3 linked regions of the Homo sapiens genome follow. The protein of the gene in region 2 purifies or fractionates together with the protein of the main gene of each other region. This does not show direct contact. Each region holds a gene or a part of one and is shown on either strand. Other genes may lie near its edges.

What was found.
Region 1: the proteins of PRR14 (region 2) and MAN2B2 purify together in Homo sapiens (affinity purification with mass spectrometry; 2 studies listed by BioGRID and IntAct, with this or other methods). This does not show direct contact.
Region 3: the proteins of PRR14 (region 2) and PPP2R5E purify together in Homo sapiens (affinity purification with mass spectrometry; 2 studies listed by BioGRID and IntAct, with this or other methods). This does not show direct contact.

Annotation. Positions count from the first base shown.
Region 1 is NC_000004.12:6,591,896-6,599,188, reverse strand, and holds part of MAN2B2 (epididymis-specific alpha-mannosidase isoform 1 precursor), read right to left. Parts: intron 6,017-7,293; coding exon 5,839-6,016; intron 4,656-5,838; coding exon 4,457-4,655; intron 2,077-4,456; coding exon 1,886-2,076; intron 992-1,885; coding exon 835-991; intron 1-834.
Region 2 is NC_000016.10:30,646,397-30,654,144, reverse strand, and holds the start of PRR14 (proline-rich protein 14), read right to left. Parts: upstream 3,186-7,748; 5' UTR 3,018-3,185; intron 2,550-3,017; 5' UTR 2,500-2,549; coding exon 2,477-2,499; intron 2,350-2,476; coding exon 2,181-2,349; intron 1,425-2,180; coding exon 1,303-1,424; intron 1,232-1,302; coding exon 1,042-1,231; intron 781-1,041; coding exon 737-780; intron 1-736. UniProt on the Homo sapiens protein: Functions in tethering peripheral heterochromatin to the nuclear lamina during interphase, possibly through the interaction with heterochromatin protein CBX5/HP1 alpha. Might play a role in reattaching heterochromatin to the nuclear lamina at mitotic exit.
Region 3 is NC_000014.9:63,393,240-63,400,532, reverse strand, and holds part of PPP2R5E (serine/threonine-protein phosphatase 2A 56 kDa regulatory subunit epsilon isoform), read left to right. Parts: intron 1-3,816; coding exon 3,817-3,947; intron 3,948-5,247; coding exon 5,248-5,307; intron 5,308-6,604; coding exon 6,605-6,713; intron 6,714-7,293. UniProt on the Homo sapiens protein: The B regulatory subunit might modulate substrate selectivity and catalytic activity, and might also direct the localization of the catalytic enzyme to a particular subcellular compartment.

The sequences.
Region 1 (7,293 bases), on a different chromosome or scaffold from region 2:
GAGTCTAAGGCAGCAGTGACCTATGACTGGCACCACTGCACTCCAGCCTAGGTGACACAGCGAGACCCTGTCTCAAAAAACAAAAAACAAGAAGGAAGTGCAAGATGACCAGGTGCAGGCTGTGGGTGGGACCTGGCGGCCTATGCACACAAAAGTCTCATGCGGGCGGAGGGCCGCCAACCTGTCTTCATTTGTCCAGGATCTTCCCAGTTTGGAAACCCCTCAGTCCCAGGCACACTGGCATGTGATCAGTCACTCTACACGTGGGAAAACTCACAGTCAAAGAGGCTGGTCCCACGGCTGCCCTGCTGTGATGTCAGCCAAGTGGAGTTCGGGAGGGAGTGCCAGGAGCCAGGAAGGGACCGGGCCCCTGAGGACACCGGCGTACTCTCTGCCAAGGCTGGGCAGCACCGTGTTCAGGTTCAATCCCTGCTCTGCTCCTTCCTACCCGAGTGGCCCTGGGCTAGCATATAACTTGAGTCCGTTTCCTCGGCTGTAAAATGAGGACAGTAACCATTCCTATTTTGTACAGATTTTGTGAGGCATTAAATTCAATACTGCATGAAGGGTATTTTGAGCTTAGTAAATGCTCAAAACATGTTAGCTGCTATTTCTGGCTCTTCTTGTAACATCAGCAACCCTTCCTCATTGCACGGATGAGCAAACAGAGGCTGGGAGGACTGAAGCCACCTGTCCGAGCTCTCACCATGGGGAAGGGCGATATGGGTGATGTGGACTCAGAGTCTGAAGCTGGGGTCGTTGAGCCCCTCCCCTGACCTCCTCAGGCTCTCCCTTCATAAAGGGGCCACAGCCTCCCTGCAGGGCCCTGCTCACCGGAGCTGGCCGCCATGGGTGCCTGGGGCTGGAGCTCATCTAGGACGATGGAGGCCATCAGCTTGCGCATGCCCAGCATCCCCGAGGCCAGGTGCGTTGCGTACATGTCTCTCACCTTGGGGGACTCAGTCCCAGTGATGGCATCATGGTGCTGGACCTGCAGCAACCCCCAGAGGGGAGGAAGAACAGGATCAGGACCTGACTCTGCAAAGCACCTACAAGGCACCTACTAGGCGCTGGCTCTCATTCTGGCTTGCCAGGTGCCAGTGGAGAAGGGGGCAGTCCCCGCCATTTTACAGAAGGAGGAACTGAGGCCAAGAGAAGCTGAGGAGCTCGCCCAACTTTTCCTGCCCTTGTGGGAACTCATTGTCCCCCATCTCTGGACCCCCTGCTCTGAAGGACCCTGAAGTCACCTCATTTCTCCCACAACATAATGACATGTTCTGCCAGCAGCTCCTTTTGGGGAACTGTTACAGTGTCATGGCTGGTGTGACCCTTTTTTGGATAGGTGACTGAGGACAAGTTACAGGCTGTCTTGGGTCTGTTTTCCCATCAGTACAGTAGGGGATGGGTGGAGACGGAAACTCATGAACTGGCTATTCAGCAGCCACTGCACCAAGCAGGCTGTGCACACCAGCACATCCAATTGCCCCACCGTCCTCCTGGGCAAGCTCGTTGTTCTCATTGTACAGGAGGGAATTAGGTCTTGGGTGGGTGTGGGAATCATGTGCCTGACATCACACAGCTGAGCCGAGATATGGATGCAGGCAGGGCTGTCGGACACAAATGCCACTCCACCTTGTCCTTTATCCCTTTTGCTAAACTGCTACAAAGCTTAATGAGGCCACCAGCTGGATGGATCAGGCTGTGGTCTCAGCCTTGGCCTGGGTTCACCATGCACTGGCCTTGTAACCAAAGGGAACCTCAGTTTCCCCTCTGTAAAGTGGGGCCTCTAGTGCCCCAGGGCTGGAAGGATTGGCTAGGACAAGGGAGGGGAGGTGCGCAGCATGGGAGGTTCCAATCCTGCCACTGTGGCTAAATGTGGTGTTACCTCGGAGACGGCCCAGCGAAGCTGCTGGAGCTGCTGCAGGGCCCAGGTGGGGTCCAGATGCCCACGGGGGGCCGGCCACAGGTAGCGTGTGAACATGGACTCCCCGGCATACAACAAGGCGCTGGCTCGCCGGGCCAGCCCCTTCAGTGAGCTGCGGGACGTGTAGAAGCCCGTCCAGGCCTGGAATGGTTCTGGGAGACAAGGGAAGATGGTGAGCTTGAGACGGCATGACCCAGAAGTCTGCTAAGCTCCAGCCCTGGAAGAGCTGAGAAGCTGGGGCTGCAGAGGCAGCCTCTGCCAGGGTCACCCAAGGAGGCAGGCCGGGCAGGCAGCGAGCCCAGGGCTTACGGCTCCCAACTCAGGCCTCCTCCCATAGCCAGACTAGGAACTGCCCAGAAAACCCTGGATGGGCCTTGGGCAGGGTGGGAGAGACAGGCTGCACTGGGGCAGGTGGGGTGGGGTGCTGAAGGATCCTGATCGGAGGCAAGCCCAGGGTGCCTAGGAAACACAGAACAGCTGTGTGAGCAAAGGGCCTGGGAGACCCAGAGGGGAAGAGGAGGAGCCAGGTGGGCAGGACCCCACTGAGAAGGGCCTAGACTGCACAGAGGCCTTCATGTGTGACGTGGGCATGGGGAGGCCAGGACAGGCATGCGTTTCAGCAGGGATTCTCTGGGCGTCCAGGGAGGATGGATGGTAGGAGGCAGCAAGGGCTCAGAGACCCCAGGGAGCCAGTGTCCTGATGCAAGACAGAGAGGATGAGGATGCCCAGGGCCCATGCAGGAGGCAGGAGGGCTGAACCCTCCCAGGGAGTGGCTGTCTGTCTCAGAAGGGAGCTTCCTATTGCTTTTGCTTTCCTGCTCCTCGGCGTCTGGGATGTGCCCAGATTTGCCTTGATTCCCTGTTCTTCCCCCACTGGTCCTGAACCAGACTGGGAGGGGTGGTCACATGGCCCAGGGGACAGGCCACACCCTGTGGGTCAGATGGGGTCCTCCACAGCTTTGCAGCCATGTTGAGAGTGGGTGGTGAGGCCCGATTCCATTCAGTCTGGCAGGGGCTCCACATCCTCAGTGGTCATCACGATACCATGCCCGCCTGGATACCACGCCCACCTGGACGCCACGCCCACCCACACCCGCCTGGATACCACGCCCACCTGGATACCACGCCCACCTGGACACCACGCCCACCTGGACAGAGCCACACCCAACTTGACTCGGGTATATCCCTACCTGCTAGATGTGGCCACACCCACAGTCACTACCCCACCCACCTCACCATTAGCCATGCCCACATTAACATATCTCCTCCTGCCTTGACTATAACCACACCCACATCCACGGACATCCCCCAACCCGTGTGTGCAGCCCCACCTGCCTCCAATGTGGTGTCAACAGCAGGAGCCGGGGACTATGCAGCCCCACTGGTCACCATGCAGACCCAGAGGCTGGGGCCCAGAGAGGCAGGACTAAGCCAGGTCATGGGTGAGTCAAGGCAGTGCCCAGGCCAGAATGAGCCCTGCAGCTGGAGTTCATCTGTGGCATCTCTTTGGAAGGGAAATGTTATGGTTTGAATGCCCCTCCAAAACCCATGTTAAAATTTAATTGCCATTGTGACTGTATTAAGAGGTGGGATGCTTAAGAGGAGATTAGGCCATGAAGGCTCTGCCCTCGTGAACAGATTAATGTCATTGTCATGGGACTGGGATTGTTAGAAAAGCAAGTTCAACCCCCTTGTCCGGCTGTTCTTTTGCACTCAGCCTTCAGCCATGGGTGATGCAGAAAGAAGGCCCTCTCTAGACACCAGCCCTCCACCTTGGACTTCCCGGCCTCTACATCTGTGAGCCAAAGAAACTTCGTTTCCTAATCAATGACCCATTCTGTGGTATACTGTTACAGCAGCACCCAGAGGTCTAGGACATCTGCTGAGCCCTGCCTCTGTGCTGGGCAGGAGGCTGAGAGCACTTCTTCTCATTGAATTTTCACAGCAACCCTATCTATGCACGAGGCACCACAAATGTCCCCCTTTGGAGACAGGGTGGTTTCATGACTTGCACACAGGCAGCGAGTAGAGGCTTACTCACAGCCAGCCCTCTTAGCTCTCAGGCTGTGCTGCTGGTGGCCAACCCAGTTCTGGCCTGAGGACACAGGCATGATGCACAGGAGGTGCCCAGTAATGACTGTGCAGTGAAAGGAAGCCCGAGTCAGCCTCAGCATCAGGAAAGGGCTCGTAGAAGAGGTTTATGTGGAACTCATGCAGGAAGAGAAGGTGATGGAGGCCGCTCCCAGCAGGAGGCACCACCTGTGCAAAGGCCAGAGGCAGGAAACTGCATGTGGTGGGCAATGGTGAGAGGCTGAACCCTGTGGGAATCAGGTGGTGCATGTGGTGGCCAGGACGTCCAGGTGGAGTGAGCAGAGAGGGTCAGTCTCTGCCCCTGCGCCCCACACAGAACCTGCCTGGAACCCCTCCAGGGCTTGGAGAGCAGTGCCGAGCAGCCACTGAAGTGGGCAGAGGGTACGTGGACTATACCCTCCCTGCCACCAAACTACCACCCCAGCCCCTGGAAGCCTGTACCTGTGGAATAGGGCAGGAAGTCGTGGTGGTCGCGGACACGCCAGGTGACATTGAGAGCGTGCAGGGCACGGAAGTAGTCGCCCAGCGTGGCATACTGCACCGAGACACCGAGCTCGGCAGCATGGCTGTTGATGTGGTCCAGCAGCGGGTCCATGTTGGCAAACTGCACCGAGGCATTGAAGAACTGCTTGTCACATCCCTGCAGGGACATGGGAGCAACATCCTGTGCCGTGGGAGCAGGGCGCTCGCCCAGTGGGGGTGGGCCGATCGCTGCCCTCCACCAGCTGCCCTCCCAGTCTCCAAGGCGGCCAACAGGGGCCCCAAACCAGCTCCCATAGCAGTGGCTTGATCTCGGCTCATGCAACCTCCGCCTCCCGGGTTCAAGTGATTCTTCTGCCTCAGCCTCCCTGAGGCTGCAGGCGCCACCACACCTGGCTAATTTTTATATTTTTAGTAGAGACAGGGTTTTACCATGTTGGCCAGGCTGGTCCCGAACTCCTGACCTCAGGTGATCTGCCTGCCTTGGCCTCCCAAAGTGCTGGGATTATAGGTGTGAGCCACAGCGCCCGGCCCTGGGCATCTCTTAAGGCCCATCAGTGTTACTACTTATCCAAATCATTATAATTAATGATTATTAATTATTATAATTAATATAATGATTAATAACAGCAATAATAACCATGACTGAGTTACTGATCTTAAGCTTGCCTTCACAAGGGCAGTCACGGATGAAGAAGGCAGGCTCTGGGGCCCGCCTGACTGGGTCTGAACACAAATTCCACCCCTTCCTAGCCACCCTAAGGAACTCTGTGGCCTCAGGAAAATTCCTTAACCTCTCTGGGCCTTGGTTTCCTCAACTGTGAAATGGATACCAGCCTGCTTCCTAGGCCCAGTGGTGCAAATTAGATGGCTGAGACAAATATATCCCACGGGGCAGTGCCCAGCACACAGCAGGTGCTCACTAAAGGTTAGCTGTGACGATGGCCACGACGTGCCGGGCACTGGCTTCCCGGGAACGCTTCACCTCTCACCAAGCCTATGAAGCCTGCTGCCACCATCCCCATTTTACAGCGGAGGCAACTGAAGCTCAATGGACTCTAAGGCACGCAGTGCCCGAGCCGGGAGCCAGCCCGGCCCAGGCAGGGAAGAGAGCTGAGTGGGAGCTGGAGAGGCCAGCGTGGGTGAGGGTGCTTTTCCAGGTGGGGGAGGGGCTGGTAGAGTGGGAGAGGCCCAGGGGTCTGCAGGGAAGGAGGATGGAGCCACTGGGCTGAGCATGGCTGCCTAGCTGGGTCTGGATAGGGTGGCCCTGGGTGCAGGGACCAGGGCTTGCATAGTGCTCCTTGGGCTGTGTTGAGGGCACAGCACCTGGGACTCTGCCTTACCCAGGGCCAGAGGACGTGCGGTGTCCGGAACCAGGCGGCCCTCTGCTTCACGTTGGCCACCAGGGCCTCGGCATAGAGGTTGATGTTGGCTGGGGTGACAGGCTCACTCATGTTGGGGTACACCCCATCTTGGGGAGGCTTGGGGAAGACAGCCACGCCATTCCAGTAAAATCCTGACCTGTGCGAGGGCAGAAGGTTAGGGCAGAAGACACGAACTCTGTGGACAGCCAGGGCTCACACCCAAGTGCCATGTTCTCCCAGCCTTGGGACCTTGGCACATCATTTCACCCTGAGACTGAATTCTCCCACTCCATGACCGACGGTGGGTCACAGATTTGTTTGCTCATTCACGCAGGCCAACTTCTCGCCCATCAGACCCCGGGTCTCAGGACCCCAAAGAGGCCGGGGGCTTGGTGAGGCAAGTGAGGCCCTGGCCTAGGGCACAAAATTTATGGGGGTGCCTCAATTCTTAGTAGTTGAGATAAATGATATTTTAATGCAGTACTTTAAAAAATGAAAATTAATGCAAAAAACCCATGAGGAACAAAATGTCAGAGTTTTAAATAAAGACAGGCTCAGTATTTAACATCTTTCTCTGTTTGCCTTAGGCTGGGGGTGTGGAGAACCCCCAGTTAAGTGCCTTCCTTGCTCACACTGTGCAGCCTCGGGGTAGCAGCCATGGAACCCTTGTCTGGAGCTCTCCAACCTGGGCAGCCCCTTCCAGCATTCCCACCTCTGTTTCTTTTACAGACAGGGTCTTGCTCTGTTGATCAGGCTGGAGTGCAGTGATATGATCACGGCTCACTGCAGCCTCGAACTCCCGGGCTCAAGCCATCGCCTCAGCCTCCCCAGGAGCTGGGACTACCACCATGCTCGACTTGTTTTTGAATTTTATGTAGAGACGAGGTCTTGCTCTGTGGCCCAGGCTGGTCTCGAATTCCTGGGCTCAAGCAATCCTCCCACCTCAGCCTCCCAAAGCATTGGGATCACAGTCATCAGCCACCAGCACTGCCACCTCTAGCCTCACCAAGCTCCCTGGTAGAATGTGGAGCAGGTTGTTGTGAGGATTAAATGAAAGTCATTTATGGAAAGGAGCTAGAAACAGTGCTGGGCACAAAGGAGGGCTGACAAATGGCAGTGACCGCTAATTAATCCCGGCCAGTGTTCTTCACCCCCTCTGCCTTGCCTGTTGTCTTTCCTCTTCCAAGAGAGGCTAAGCACCTGGCCAGGGCAGAGTGCGGATTTGAACCCAGGGCCGTCTGACTGCACAGAGACCAAGGCTGACTGCTGCCACCACGTGGAGGCTGCAGAGCTGGTGGCCTGAATCCAACGCTGGCTCCACCACGTCTGCCAGCTGTGGGACCTGGGGCGGGCTGCTGTGCCTCAGTTTTTCCTTCTGTAAGATGGGGCACTCACAGCATCTCCGTCAGTGGGCTGCTGCGAGGGTCTGTGAGG
Region 2 (7,748 bases):
CTTTTTTTTTTTTTTTGAGACAGAGCCTTGCTCTGTGGCCCAGGCTGGAGTGCAGGGGCACAATCTCAGCTCACTGCAGCCTTGAACTCCCAGGCTCAGGCAGTCCTCCCACCTCAGCCTCCCAAGTGGCTAGAACTACATGCATGGACCACCACATCCAACTAATTTAAAACAATATCTTGTCTGAGCATGGTGGCTCTCGCCTGTAATCCCAGCACTTTGGGAGGCCGAGGTGGGTGGATCACCTGAGGTCAGGAGTTCAAGAGCCTGGCCAACGTGGTGAAACCTCGTCTCTACTAAACATACAAAAACTAGCCGGGCATTGTGGCGGATGCCTGTAATCCCAGCTACTCGGGAGGCTGAGGCAGGAGAATCACTTGAACCCAGGAGGCAGAGGTTGCAGTGAGCTGAGATCGCACCATTGCACTCCAGCCTGGGCAACAGAGCAAAAACTCCATCTCAAAAACAAACAAATAAATAAACAAAACGTTTTGTAGAGATATGGTCACAGTGATGTGGTTGCCCAGGCTGGCCTCAAACTCCTGGGCTCAAGCGATTCTCCTGCCTTGGCCTCCTAAAGTGCTGGCATTAGGCATGGGCGTGCCCGGCCCCTTAAGGCTTTTTAAGATGCCACAAGGAAGGATTGGATCAGTCAGTCCCGATGCCCCTAGCTCTGGCTACCTGGATGATGGCTGTTGCCTGGATCCTTTGATAATCCCTACTCCAGCCCTCTCACCTTTGTGCTGGGATGATGAAGTTGGGGGTCTCATCAATGAAGCCCTGGATAAAAATAGGGGATGTTTGTGGGGAGGCAGGAAAGCCCCCTTAGTGCCCCACATCCTGACTCTTTCAGTTCCCGGATAGCTGCTTGGGTTCACGCCAAAGACGTTTTTATATAGTCTTTGCTCAGGCAGTGTCTGCCGCCTAAAATGCCATCCTCCTCACCCCAAGAAAAACCCACCTAAGACTCAGGCCTCCTACCCTTCTATCCCTGCTGGAACCCAGCAGAACCCTTGACATCCGTACCCTCAGTTCCCATACCTCAGCGGGGGGTCTAGGACTGGCGATGTCTTCCAGCATCACCACCAGGGTGGGCTGGGGGGCCCGGTCCACCTTTTGTGAAGGGCCCTCCTCTGGGCCAGGGGTTGTCCTTGATCGCCGCCTCAGGGTGGAAGAGGTCCGGTGGATGCGGCTCAAGGGCTCGCGACACAAACACAGAGGGTCGGGAGGCCTAGCGAGGGAACAGGAAGATTAAAATGGCTCAGCTGGGCCCTCGGCTTACCCCCATCCTGCCATGCTCACCTGGCCTGCGAGGACCACCCGGCCTGCCGGGGTGGCGAGGCAGGCGGCTGCCTGTGGACAGGATCCTGATGGTAGCTGTGGTGCTGTGGTATGGAGGTCTGCTTTGAGGGCACCACGGGGACCTGGAAGAGAAAGAGGTGTCAAGAGCAAGGTGATAGAATGAGGCTGGACGGGACAAGGTTTCCCTGTGCCTCACAGTGCCCTGAGCCACAAACATAACAGAGATTGGGGCTAGAATTCACTCGGATCCCAAGAGAAGAGATGAATTGGACTGAATTAGGGGCCAGATATTAAGAGTCCTAAACTGCAGGTGTAGGACCTGGGTAATCTCATCCACGCTGTTTAGAGAAATGAAAAAGACAGGGTGAGCTAGGGTGGGTCACTGCCTTTTTTGGGCCAGTTTTTCTTATCTGTGCAGTGGAGTCAAAGACCTCAGCCTGCTTCCTAAGGAGGCTGGGCTGGGAAGAAAGCAGAAGAGTTTCGGCCCAGCGCCGTGGCTCACGCCTGTAATCCCAATACTTTGGGAGGCAGAGATGGGAAGATCGCTTGATGCCAGTTTGAGACCAGCTTGTGCAACATAGCAAGACCCTGTCTCTAAAAAAAAAAAAAAGATAGAAAAAAAGAAGCAGAAGAGTTTCTCAGAGTTACAGGGATGTGGTTCCAGCCCAAAATCGTTGGTGGGTGGAATGGGCACTGCCCAATTCTAGGTTGGAGTAAGTGGGAGCCAAGCAGGACTCTACCATGAGGGAGGCTGCCTGAGGGCTGAGTACAACAATGATGGATTTGGACTTCAGTTATCCTCAGTAGGGATCTGGCCCGAGTTTGGTAGTGAGGAAAGTCATGGGGGAATAGAGAGTCTCTTGGTTCAGGGGGCTCACCATGTGAACAGCCATGACATCTTCTAGCACCACGGCCAGGACCCGCCGAGAGGCCTTTTCCAGGGGAGAAGGGGCCCCCGGGAGCTGCAGCCTCGGCCGTTTCGGGCTCCTGGCTCCCCATAATGCTCGAGTCAGAGGCTGGCGGCACAGACGCGGCTGGCCAGGCGGGCTGGAGGGTGAAAGAAGCAGAGGACGGTCGCCCGAACCTGTCGCTGGCTCTGTAGTTTCCCGGCACGGTCGCCAGGATCCCCATCTCCCGGGGTCAAGACAGGCGGGCCGCCCGGGTACGCTCTCACCTGGAGTCCCCGGGCAAGTCCATGGGAGACGCGGCGGCTCCGGGGGGGTCCCTGGGGAATCCCAGGCTGCGGCCTGGGGTAAGGGGGGAGCGGGGGAGCGGGGGGTGAGGGCCGGCCCCTTCCCTGGGGCTCCGCCCTTCATGGTCCGCCCGCGGCTCCCCGTAGCCCAGCGGCCGCAGCCCTGGGGCGCGAAAGGGCGCCCCCGGCCGGTCGCCCGGAGCGGGTGTCCTCCCGCTGCCACCGCCTCGATCAGCGGATCACTCGCGCCCTGCCTGGCACCTGCCGCCAGAACCCAGAATGCAGCGGCCCCAGTTCTCCCGCGGCCCGAGCCTCCCGAGGCCTTTGTCCCTGCAGATTATGCCCCGAGATCCCCCGGGATCCACGGGGATCCCGGTCCTGGGAGGCTATTTCCGCTGGATCCCTCTGCGATCCTCCTCCTCTCCCAGCGAGTGGCCGAGGACTCCAAAGCAATACTCCATACATCGACGACCCTCCATCCCACCAGATCCCCTAGACTGGATCCCTGAGGAAAGAATCCTACAGCGCGGTTCCGCCAATCAGACGCCGGGCGAGGCTTTTCCTTCCCCTGTAAGCTTCAGCGCCGCAAAGCTCCGCTCAGACAGGGGCGGCCCGAGCTGGAGCATCTCCGAACTCAGCGTAGATCCCCAGGGATCCACTGTCAAGCAGATACCCTCTTCACTCCAATCCCGGGAGGTCCCGCCCACAGACGCCCCTTCCCTCCTCGCGTCCCCGCCCAGCGGTCTCCCCCGGCCCGGGACCAGATGGTTCAGAAGTTTCCTTCCCCGCCCCCACTCCCGCCCTCTCTCCAGCCACTCCTTGCCCTCCCCCAAGGGCTGCTCACCGCCGCCTCCCGTGGATCCCGGGTCTTCCGCAGCTCCCACCTCCGGCTCCTTTAAAAACCAAGCTTACCCAACGCTGCCCAACCGCCGATGGCCTTCTTCTCGGAGCCTCTGGACACCGCCCAATCGCCGGTCCCCGTCTTCCGGGGTGGTGAGAAACTAAGTGAAGCCACCTGGCGGCCATCATCCCTAGGGGCAGGAAGCCAAACTGAGTGGCGCCGCCATGATGGTTGAGGGCAGATGTCTTAGTCCTCGTTGAACCGTGGTGGACCGGGTGGCGTCATCTTTTGAGGGCCATATACAATGCCAGGTTTCTTGATATGTTGAGGCAACCGATTGAAGCTAGAGTGCCGCCACGCTTTTTAAGGGCATCTTCCGGTTCTTTCGTTCTTAGGCCAATAAACGTCGACTGAGTGCTAACGATATGTGAAATTCCCAATTTCCTAGAGTGGCCTCGTTTGAGGAAGGTTCCGGCATCTTCCTGGGTTCCTAAACTGGGTTCCCACGGCCCAGGGTCCGAGTTTAGGAGGGGGTGGTGGAGGCCCTGAGTCCGAACACCCGGGATCAAAGACGGGCTGGTGCGGCCTGTGGCTCCGTTGCTGGCGCCTTGTCCTGGAGAGATGGGACCGAGCCGAAGTGGGGAGGAGACTGGGGGCGCTAAGCTTGACTTCCCCTGAGTGTTGCCCACCTACTTCTTCCTGGAGAAGTGGGGGTGCCCACGGTCCGCGCAGAGGTCTATAGGACAGGGGCATCTTTGCAGGAGGCCAAGAATATACCTTGGCTTGCTAGTGGGGCCCGGCTCTCAGGAACCACTGTCTCAAGTGGGGCCCGCAGGATGGGGGAGGTGTAAATAGTCCTGAGGAGTAAGGGATCAGGGTGGGACGCTGCTGCTTGGAGGAGCTGCGTCATGGACCCTTTACTGGAAGCTGGGCTGTTGGTGGGGAGGAAGTGGGCATGTAGTGGCTTCTTGCAGCGCTATGAAGGTGCCCTGACCGCTTAACCAAAGCCCATGTCTGCACTAGTTCTCCTTCCCCAGATTCCCTGGTCCAAACCAGTACTTCTTTTCTTTTTTAATTTTTTTTTTTTAATTTGAGGCAGGATCTCGCTATGTTGCCCAGGCTGATCTTGAACACCTGGGCTCAAGTAGTCCTCCCGCCTCAGCGTCCCAAAGTGCTGGGATTACAGGCGTGAGCGCCCAGCACGAGTCCTTATTTTGTTTTCTTAACAGAACGAGAGACCCTGAAGCCTAGAATCCTGGGTCCGAGATAAGGTGCAGAGGTGCTTCCTGGTTTAGGTGTCATAATTCTCAGGGGATTGAGTGATGAAAGTGATAAAACAGGGCCGGGTGTGGTGGCTCACACCTGTTATCCCAGCACTTTGGGAGGCAGAAGATAGCGGATCACTTGAGGCCAGGAGTTCAAGACCAGCCCGGCCAACATGGCAAGACCCCATCTCTAAAAAAAAAAATACAAAAAAATGAGCCGAGCATGGTGGCGCACGCCTGTAGTCCCAGCTACTCAGGAGGCTGAGGTGGGAGGCTCTCTTGAGCCTGGGAGGTCGCAGCTGCAGTGGGCTATGATCGCGCCACTGCACTCTAGCCTGGGCGACAGAGACCCTGTCTCAAAACAGACAAACAAACAAGGGATGATATGGAAAGCATAATCGAGAAGGGCTTATGTGGGAAATGGAGGCTCCCCAGCTCCGTCCCTAAGGACTCATGCAGGGAGACGTTCTTGCAGGACTACAGCATCTCTGTAACAGGAGGTCCGCTGGGTCCTCTGGAAACCCATTCAGACTTCTGGTGGGAGCAGGCCGCCGTGGTTCTTCCACGTAGAGGTGTTTCTCTCCCTCTGGATCAGGGCTGGCAGTATGGGTGCCTGAGGAGGTACAGTGATGTTTCATCCAGCTGTGAGTGCTTGGAGATTCTTTCAACCTTGCCAAATTAAGACCTAAACCCCACAGGTGCTTTTCAGGCCCCAGGGCAGGAAAAACTTTCAAAAGCAGAGCAGGCCTAACCTGAGTTTTTAGGTATTTTTTGTTTGTTTGTTTTTTGTTTTTGAGACGCTCTGTCGCCCAGGCTGGAGTGCAGTGGCGCCATCTCAGCTCACTACAACCTCCGCCTCCTGGGTTCAAGCGATTCTCGTGCCTCAGCCTCCCAAGTATCTGGGACGACAGGTGCTCACCACCACGGCCGGCTAGTTTTTTGTATTTTTAGTAGAGACGGGGTTTCGCCATGTTGGCCAAGCTGGTCTCGAACTCCTGGCCTCAAGTGATCTGCCCGCCTCGGCCTCCCAAATTGCTGGGATTATAGGCATGAGCCACCACACCTGGCCCTAATCTGAGTTTTGATTCTCTAGGTCTCTTGAAGTCAATGACACCAAGGGTAAAAGATGTAGTCCAAAGAAAAGTCCTGGACCTGAGTATTTGGTAGGAAGAGCCCACCAGTGTGACCCTAACTTGGGGTGCTAGAGTTCATCAAATGGAAGTCTAAGGTAGACTGTGGCAGTCTTGGCCCTTAGCCCAGGCCAGCAAATGTGAGCCCTCATGATCTTGCGGTCTCACCTCTGCTCTTTTTGTGACTTCCCATTTCAACAACTTTACTTTGCCCACTGCCTACACAGGTGGTGGACACACTGTGGGGTGTACCACAGTGTATGCTGATGCATTAGCAAGAGGGCCCCACACAGCCTCCAGTGGGGCTGCTGGTGTGGCCGTGGGTGCACTTCAGTGTGTCATTATTCAGAAACTCAGGGTCCGTTTAGACTCTGGGCGGCCCATCTTTCTTTTTTCTTTTCTTAGACAAGGTCTTGGTCTGTCACCCAGGCTGGAGTGCAGTGGTGTGATCATGGCTCACTGTAGCCTTGACCTCCTGGGCTCAAGTGATCCTCCCACCTCAGCCTCCCAAGTAGCTGGGACTATAGGTGTCCGCCACCACGCCCGGCTAATTTTTTGTATTTTTAGTAGAGATGGGGTTTCACTGTGTTAGCCAGGATGGTCTCGATCTCCTGACCTCGTGATCCGCCCACCTCGGCCTCCCCAAGTGTTGGGATTACAGGCGTGAGCCACCGCGCCTGGCCTGGACCCTTTAAATATATATATATATTTAAATTTTTTTTACCAGCCAGCATCATGCTAAGTTTTGTCAATAGATGGCTGGAGAGACATTGCAGGAAGAAAGAGTTTTGCTTCCCAGTTCAGCAAACCCTCCTGGGAGGCTCCTGCAGCACAAGTGGGTTCCCAGCTCCCTGCTTCTGCAGGGCAGGGTGGCCAGCAGAACCCCAGGGTCAGCAGCTCCCCCAGGTGCCCTCTGGATGGTTTTGCAGTGGAGTTCCTCTGTGGAGACACCTGCCCATGAACAGCTTTCCCTGGCACCCAAGAGGGTGGATTTCCAGCAAGTTCCACCAGACTGACACTCCAGCAACTACTGTACTTCAGCGACTTCTGTACTTCTGTGCCCTCTCCAAAAACTTGTGGATCTCAGGAAGGAAGGAGGTCTGTCTTTCTTTCTTTCTTTCTTTTCTTTCTTTCTTTCTTTCTTTCTTTCTTTCTTTCTTTCTTTCTTTCTTTCTTTCTTTCTTTCTTTCTTTCTCTTTCTTTCTTTCCTTCCTTCCTTCCTTCCTTTCCTTCCTTCCTTCCTTCTTTCTTTTTCCTTCCTTCCTTCCTTCCTTCCTTCCTTCCTTCCTTCCTTCCTTCCTTCCTTCTCTCTCTCTCTCTTTCTTTCTTTCGACAGGGTCTCACTCTGTCACCCAGACTGGAGTGTGGTGGCTCACCACAACCTCCGCCTCCCAGGCTCAAGCGATTCTGCCTTAGCCTCCCAAGTAGCTGGGATTACGGGCACATGCCACCATGCCTGTCTAATTTTTGTATTTTTAGTAGAGATGGGGTTTCACCATGTTGACCAGGCTGGTCTCAAACTCCTGACCTCAAATGATCCACCCGCTATGGCCTCCCAAAGTGCTGGGGTTACAGGCATGAGCCACCGCGCCTGGCCAGAAGGAGCCTTTTTCTTGTATGCTCTGTCTCCGCCTGAGAGGAGCTGTGGCTGCTCCTTGTATTAGGTTGGTGCAAAAATAACTGTGGTTTTTGTCATTAAAAGTAATGGCAAAACCGCAATTACTTTTGCACCAACCTAATATCTGCTCTTCTTGCATTTTTTTTTTTAGAATTCTGTTTACTTCTTATTATCTGTAGTGGGCAGAATTTTGTCTCCCCACCTCCCCCCCACCCCACCAAAGATATTTTCAAATCTTGAACCTTTCACTTCCTCTGAATCTGACCTTATTTTGTTGTTGTTGTTGTTGTTGTTGTTGTTGCTGTTGTTGTTTGACACAGGATCTTGCTCTGTTACCCAGGCTGCAGTGCAGTGGCTGGATCTTGGCTCACTGCAGCCCTGACCCCCTGGGTTCAAGCAG
Region 3 (7,293 bases), on a different chromosome or scaffold from region 2:
TTTATTGTATTGCTGAATGGGCAGAGAGCTGTAGTTAACAACATCTTCTGTTTGGATAGGCTGCTAGGAAAAGCATGTACTATTGAACCTGTGAGGAGCACTCATATCCCACTTCTAACTCCTCATTTCTTCATCGGTCAGCCTGGATGTCTCTTCCTTTAGAAGCCTTTGCTGATCACTCCACTTCTTCCAAATACAGTAGATGTGTCTGCTGTGTATTTATACAACATCCTGAACTACTTAACATGCTGTTTATTTACTTGTTTGTATTCCCCATTAGAATAGGCTCTGAGAAAGCAAAGACTGTATCTGTCTTGCTTATCATTGTATCCCTGACAGCTCGCCCACTGGCTGGCTTTTAATAAGCACACCATAAATATTTACTTGAAATACTCATTTTTAAAATGAACAGATGAATGAATGATAGATGGATGGTGGATGGCATTATGTAGCTAAAAATTGTGTCCTGTCTCTACCTATTTTTGAAGACCATCCTTTAGTTTGCGTTTCCTGCCATGTTTGAGGGGCCTTTTTTTGGTCCATAACTCTTGTCTTTTATTCAAATTAAAACACCGAACAAAAGCACATTCGATTATTGACCATGAGGTTTTTATTCTGCTGTCAGTGTCAACCTCATGTCTAAATCACCTGAGGTCAAACTTACATATATCTGGATAGCCTTTTTGATGACGATGGTAGTCTAATTTGTGTGTTATGTGCTCTTGAAATGTTTTGCTGTAAAGACACTAGAACTGAATTTTGCTTTATTGCAATGATGATGAATGTTAAAAAAAACAACTCAGTAACATTCAAACCAATTTCCAAGTTTGTTCTTCAGCCAGAGGAACTTGCACACTGACTTTTTGTAAAGGTAGCAGATTTATTGTGTTGTAATTCATACACCATAAAATTCACCATTTTAAAGTTTCCAATTTAGTGGTTTTTAGTATGTTTACAGAGTCATGCAACCATCACCACAGTATCATTGCAGGATGTTTTTATCATCCCTCAAAGAAATCCAGACCCACAGGAGGCTGAAGCAGGAGAATCGCTTGAACCCGGAAGGCGGAGGTTTCAGTAAGCCGAGATAGCGCCACTGCACTCCAGCCTAGTGACAGAGCAAGACTCTGTCTCAAAAAAAAAAAAAAAAAAAAAAAAAAAAAAAAGAAAGAAATCCAGACCTATTAGTAGCCACTCCCCATTCTACTTTCTGTCACTATGGATTTGCCTATTCTGCTTATTTCACATAAATGGAGTCATACATTGTATGGCCTTCTGTGTCTGGTTTCTTTTACTTACTTAGCATGATGTTTGAAAGATTCATTGATGTTGTAACATGTATCAGTTACTTTGTTCCTTTTTATGGCTGAATAATATTCCATGGCATCCCATTTTGTTTATCAGTTGACGGATATTTGGGTTGTTTCAGTTTTTAGCTATTATGAATATTGCTCCCATGAACATCTGTGTACAAGTTTTTGTGTGGACATGTGTTTTCGGTTCTGCTGGATATATACATGAAAGTGGAATCGCTTAGTCATATAGTAACTCTGTGGGAGATTTAAGGAACTGCCAAACTGTTTTCTGAAATAGCTGCACCATTTTACATTCTTACCAACAATGTATGAGGGTTCCAGTTTCTCCATATCCTCGCCAACACTTTTTATTATCCCTCTTTTTCATTATAGCCATCCAATGAGTATCTCTTTGTTGGTTGGGTTTTCTTTTCTTTTCTTTTTTTCTGAGATGGAGTCTTCCTCTGTTGCCTAGGCTGTAGTGCAGCAGCGCGATCTCGGCTCACTGCAAACTCCACCTCCCAGGTTCAAGCAATTCTTCTGCCTCAGCCTCCCGAATACCTGGGATTACAGGCATGTGCCAGCACGCCTGGCTAATTTTTGTATTTTTAGTGGAGACAGGATTTCACCATGTTGGCCAGGCTGATCTCAAACCCCTGACCTCGTGATCTACCCCCTCGGCCTCCAAAAGTGCTAGGATTACAGGCGTGAGCCAGGGTTTGCTTTTCTGTAATGATCAATAAAATAGAGCACTTTTCATGGTTTATTGACCATTCTTGTTGAAAATCAGTTGACCATAAATGTGAGGGCTTACTTTTGGGCTCTTAATTCTATTCCATTAATCTGTATGTCTGTCTTTATGCCAGTACCACACTGTCTTGGTATTTTGGACTAAGTTTTGAAATAGAGAAGTGTGAATCTTTCAAGTTTTGTTTCCCTCAAGAGTATTTTGGCTCTTCTGGTTCTCTTGCATTTCCATATGAATTTTAGGATCAACTTGTCAATGATACAAAAACAAAGCAGCTAGAACTTTTGATAGAGATTGAGTTGAATCTGTTGTGCTCACTGGCATTTGGCTGAAACTTTAGCTTGTTACCTCTTTTGGACTAGTTGCGTGGACCTCATTTTGAGCATGTAGATGTGATGTTATCAGGATTTGGTTATTAACTTTAGATTACAAATGTTTGGGAACTTAAACATGTTATTCACAGCCAGGCATGGTGGCTCACACCTCTAATCCCAGCACTTTGGGAGGCTGAGGTGGGTGGATCACCTGAGTTCTGGAGTTTGAGACTAGCCTGACCAATATGGTGAAACCCTGTCTCTGCTAAAAATACAAAAAATTAGCTGGGCACGGTGGTAGGTGCCTTTAGTCCCAGCTACTCAGGAGGCTGAGACAGGAGAATTGCTTGCTTGAACACAGGAGGCGGAGGTTGCAGTGAGCTGAGATCGTGCCACTGCACTCCAGCCTGGGCAACAGAGCAATACTCCATCTCAAAAAAAAAAAAAAAAAGTTATTCACATATAACATACAACAGAAATAATCAATGTTCACTTCGTTGACTATTTACAGAGTGAGCACACCTACATAACAAGAGTCTGGATCTAAAAAGGACCATTGCCAGTATCATTGAGACATTTTGATGTTTGTTTTGATTCAGGTTTTTTCATTTTCCTAGATGTTCTAGTAGAGCTGAAGGCTTATCCTTTTTTTTTTTTTTTTTTTTTTTTTTTTAAAGACCGAATCTTGCTCTATGGCCCAGGCTGGAGTGCAATGGCGCGATCGCAGCTCACTGTAACCTCTGCCTCCTGGGTTCAGGTGATTCTCCTGCCTCAGCCTTCTGAGTAGCTGGGATTACAGGTGCCCGCCACCACACCTGGCTAATTTTTGTATTTTTACTAGAGACGGGGTTTCACCATGTTGGCCAGGCTGGTCTTAAACTCCTGACCTCAGGTGATGCGCCTGCCTTGGCCTCCCCAGGTGCTGGGATTACAGGCATGAGTCACCACAGGCAGTCAGCTTATTTTAACTGCATATTTGGAATATCAGTAGGTAGCATAGTGCAGTGGTTGAGCTACGGACTTTTGGCCTCAACTGCTGGGGTTCAAATTCTAGCTTTACCACCTATTAGCTGTGAGACCGTGGGCACGTTACTTAACCCTATGTGCCCCAGTTTCCTCTTCTGTAAAAGGGGGACAAAACTATCTCATTGGGAGGATTAATATGTAGATTGCTTGGAAAATTGCCTGATGATCACAGTAAGTGCCATATGTGTATTAGCTATTATTCATATTATTACTTTTATTGTTGTTATTTTGTATTTGTATTTCTTTAGTGGAATATAAGCTCCTTGTCTGACTTGTTTATCATGATATGCCCAAAGACTAGCACTGTGCTTGGCACATAATAGATATTCAACACATTTTTTGAGGAAGGAAGAAGGGGATTTTAAATAATAGAATTCCTAAATCCTTTTCTGAAACCGCCTTTGACAGCTATAATGTCTTTCATTTACAACAGCTTCTGGAGCTATTTGACAGCGAAGACCCTCGGGAACGGGACTACTTAAAAACAGTCTTACACAGAATTTATGGCAAGTTTCTTGGTCTTAGAGCATTTATCCGAAAACAGATTAACAATATTTTTCTAAGGTAAGTGGAGTGTGATGGGGGAAGAAGGAGAAGCAAAGTTGGTGTTTTTATGAGTATTAAGTAAATCTCAAATATCTGAAAACGGTGTACTGACTTCTCTTTCTCCCTTTCTGCCTGCCTTCCTTCATTCTACTGACTCTCCTGCCTCTTCCTCTACCCCCTCCCCCTCCTCTCCTCCCCCATCTTCTCCTCTCCTCCCCCATCTTCTCCTCTCCTCCCCCATCTTCTCCTCCCACCCTCCTCTTCCTCCTCTTTTCCTCTTCCTCTCCCTCCTCCCCCCACTGCTTCTTCTCTATCCCTCCTCTCCCCCTACTTTCCCCCTCCTCTTCCCTCTCCCCTGCTTTTCTCCTCCCCCTTCTCCTCCTCCCCCATCTCCTCCTCCTCTCCTCTTTTCCTCTCCTCTCTCCTCCTCCTCCTCTATCCCCTGTCCTCCTCCTTTCTCCCTCCCTCTCCTCCTCTCCTCCCCGCTCTCCTCCTCTCCTGCCCCCTCCCCCTTCTCCTCTTTTCCTCCCTCTCCTCCTCTCTTCCCCCACCTCTCCCTCCCCCATCTTCCCCCTCCCCTCTCTTCCCCCCTTCTCCTCTCCTCCCCCGTCTCTTCCCTCCTTTTCTCCCCCTCCCCCTTCTCCTCCTCTTCTCCTCCCTGTCCTCCTCTCTTCCCCCACCTCTCCCTCCCCCATCTTCCCGCTCCCCTCCTCTCTTCCCCCCTTCTCCTCTCCTCCCCGACTCCTCTCTTCCCTCCTTTTCTCCCCCTCCCCCTCCTCCTCCTCTCCTCCTCCCTCTCCTCCTCTCTTCCCCCCATCTCTCCCCCGTCTCCTCCTCTCTTCCCCCCTCCTCCTCCCTTTTCCCTCTGCTCCTCCTCCCTTCCACCCTCTCCTCCCCCCTCTTCTCCCCTCTCTCCTCCGCTCTTCCCTCCTCTCCTCCCCCTCTCTCCCCATCTTCTCCTCCCTCTCCTCTCTTCCCCCATCTCTCCCCCATCTCCTCTCTTCCCCTCTCTCCTCCTCTCTTCCCTCCTCTCCTCCTCTCTTCCCTCCTCTCCTCCTCTCTTCCCTCCTCTCCTCCTCCTCTCTTCCCTCCTCTCCTCCTCCTCTCTTCCCCCCTCCTCTCCTCCTCCTCTCTTCCCCCCTCCTCCTCCTCCTTCTCTCTTCCCCCTTGTCCTCCCTCTCCTCCTCTCTTCCCCGCTCTCCTCCTCCTCCTCCTCTTCTCCTCCTCCTCCCCCTTCTCCTCCTCCTCCTCCTCTTTTTATCCCTTCCTTCTCCTCCTCCTCTCCTCCTTTCTCCTCCCTTTTCTCCTCTTCTCTCAGGTTTGTTTATGAAACAGAACACTTCAATGGTGTAGCTGAACTGCTGGAAATATTAGGAAGGTGAGCACGGTTTTTCTAATTGCTAATCTCAGATGAATATTATTTTAAAAATTAGGTTCAGGTGGCACCAAGAGATGCTCACCTAGTTCTCTTGCTGTATGTACATTGGGTCTCTCTCATTTGTGCCTATTAGCATATTTTCCAGCTGACTCTACAAGACACAATTTCCTGTTCCCCTTGTTCCACAAGTATGCATTGCCATTTCCACTGGAATGACTGAAAGAGCTGACAGTTCATTCATTACTAGAAAGATGGTACATCTAATTGTGGTCAGGCTAGTTACTCCAAAACATCTTATTCTCATTAGTTTTTAGGCTATCTGGTCCTTTGCCTTATCTGTTGAAAGCAAGTTTATAATAAATTGGAAAGATTGCCATTTTCAAAGGAGTTGTGTATCCAGGTATAGTCCTTGAACAGCTGCAGCCTGGAGTAGTGGAATGAATTGGAAAGAGCTGTGGTGTAAGTTTCTACACACAAGGGAGGATAATGTAGCTGGACAATATGATTACTTAATCTTTTCTCCTAATATGAAGAGAAAAAGAAGGTGGAGTCACATGGCTTTCTCTCAGTGATTTCCCTAGGCTGGGCAGAGGTTTCAGGAATGAGAAGGAATGATGTCTGGAAATGGAAAAGGTCATATTTAAGGCGGAAGCAAGCAAGGCGGGCCATTATTTGGAGAAGGAAAAGGGAGGGAAAATAAAGGGTTTTGATAAAGAGCTTTTGGAAACCATCTGACTAATTTTAGGAGCACAGGAGCCTTTGTTGGGTGACCAGAAGCAAATTTTCTTCTCTTAAATTTCCTTCCAACTTTTTGTATTCCTTGAAGTCATTAAGAAATCCTGGCTGGGTGTGGTGGCTCACGCCTATTATCCCAGCACTTTGGGAGGCCAAGGTGGGCAGATCATTTGCAGTTAAGAGTTCTAGACCAGTCTGGACAATATGGTGAAACTCCTTCTCTACTAAAAATACAAAAAAATTAGCCAGGCATGGTGGTGGGTGCCTGTAATCCCAGCTACTTGGGAGGCCTGAGGCATAGGAATAGCTTGAATCCCGGAGGCGAAGGTTGCAGTGAGCTGAGATTGGGCCACTGCACTCCAGCCTGGGCAATAGAGCAAGATGACTCTGTCTCAAAAAAAAAAAAAAAAAAAAAAAAAAGGAAATTCTGAATGCCACTGGGGTGGGTATTATGTTGTTTTGTACAAACAAACTGATTAAGTTTAATTAATATCACAAGAACAGTTTGTCTCAGTTCAACTTGTGGTAACATTGCTAATTTGTGTCTCTTTTTTCTCCCTAGTATTATCAATGGCTTTGCTTTACCTCTTAAGGCAGAACACAAACAGTTTCTGGTGAAAGTATTGATCCCTTTACACACTGTCAGGAGCTTATCACTCTTCCATGCACAGGTAGGAGGATTTTGTACAACTACTTTTAGAAGCAAAATAAAAAGTTTGCAAACTCGTTTTTTTGATATTGATATAACCTTCATTTTGTTTTTTTGGTTTTTGTTTTTTGAGACGGAGTCTTGCTCTGCCGCCCAGGCTGGAGTGCAGTGGGACAGTCTTGGCTCACTGCAGCCTCCACCTCCCGGGTTCAAGCAATTCTTCTGCCTCAGCCTCCCGAGTAGCTGTGACTACAAGCGCACGCCACCATGCCCAGCTAATTTTTGTATTTTTAGTAGAGACGGGGTTTTACCATGTTGGCCAAGATGGTCTGGGTCTTCTGACCTCATGATCCGCCCACCTTGGCCTCCCAAAGTGCTGGGATTACAGAGGTGTGAGCCACGGCGCCGGGCCTATCGCCTTCATTCCCAAAGGAAAGAGACTTACTTAAGTTTAAAATACTCCCCGAGGGAAATAAAAATGTATGCATTTTTTTTCTATGCACAGTAGAATCATGGAAATATTTTTAAAGTGGGAGGAACCCTTGTTTGGTCATTTTATTTTACAGAGAACTTATATGACTTTCCCAAGTGCACACAATAAC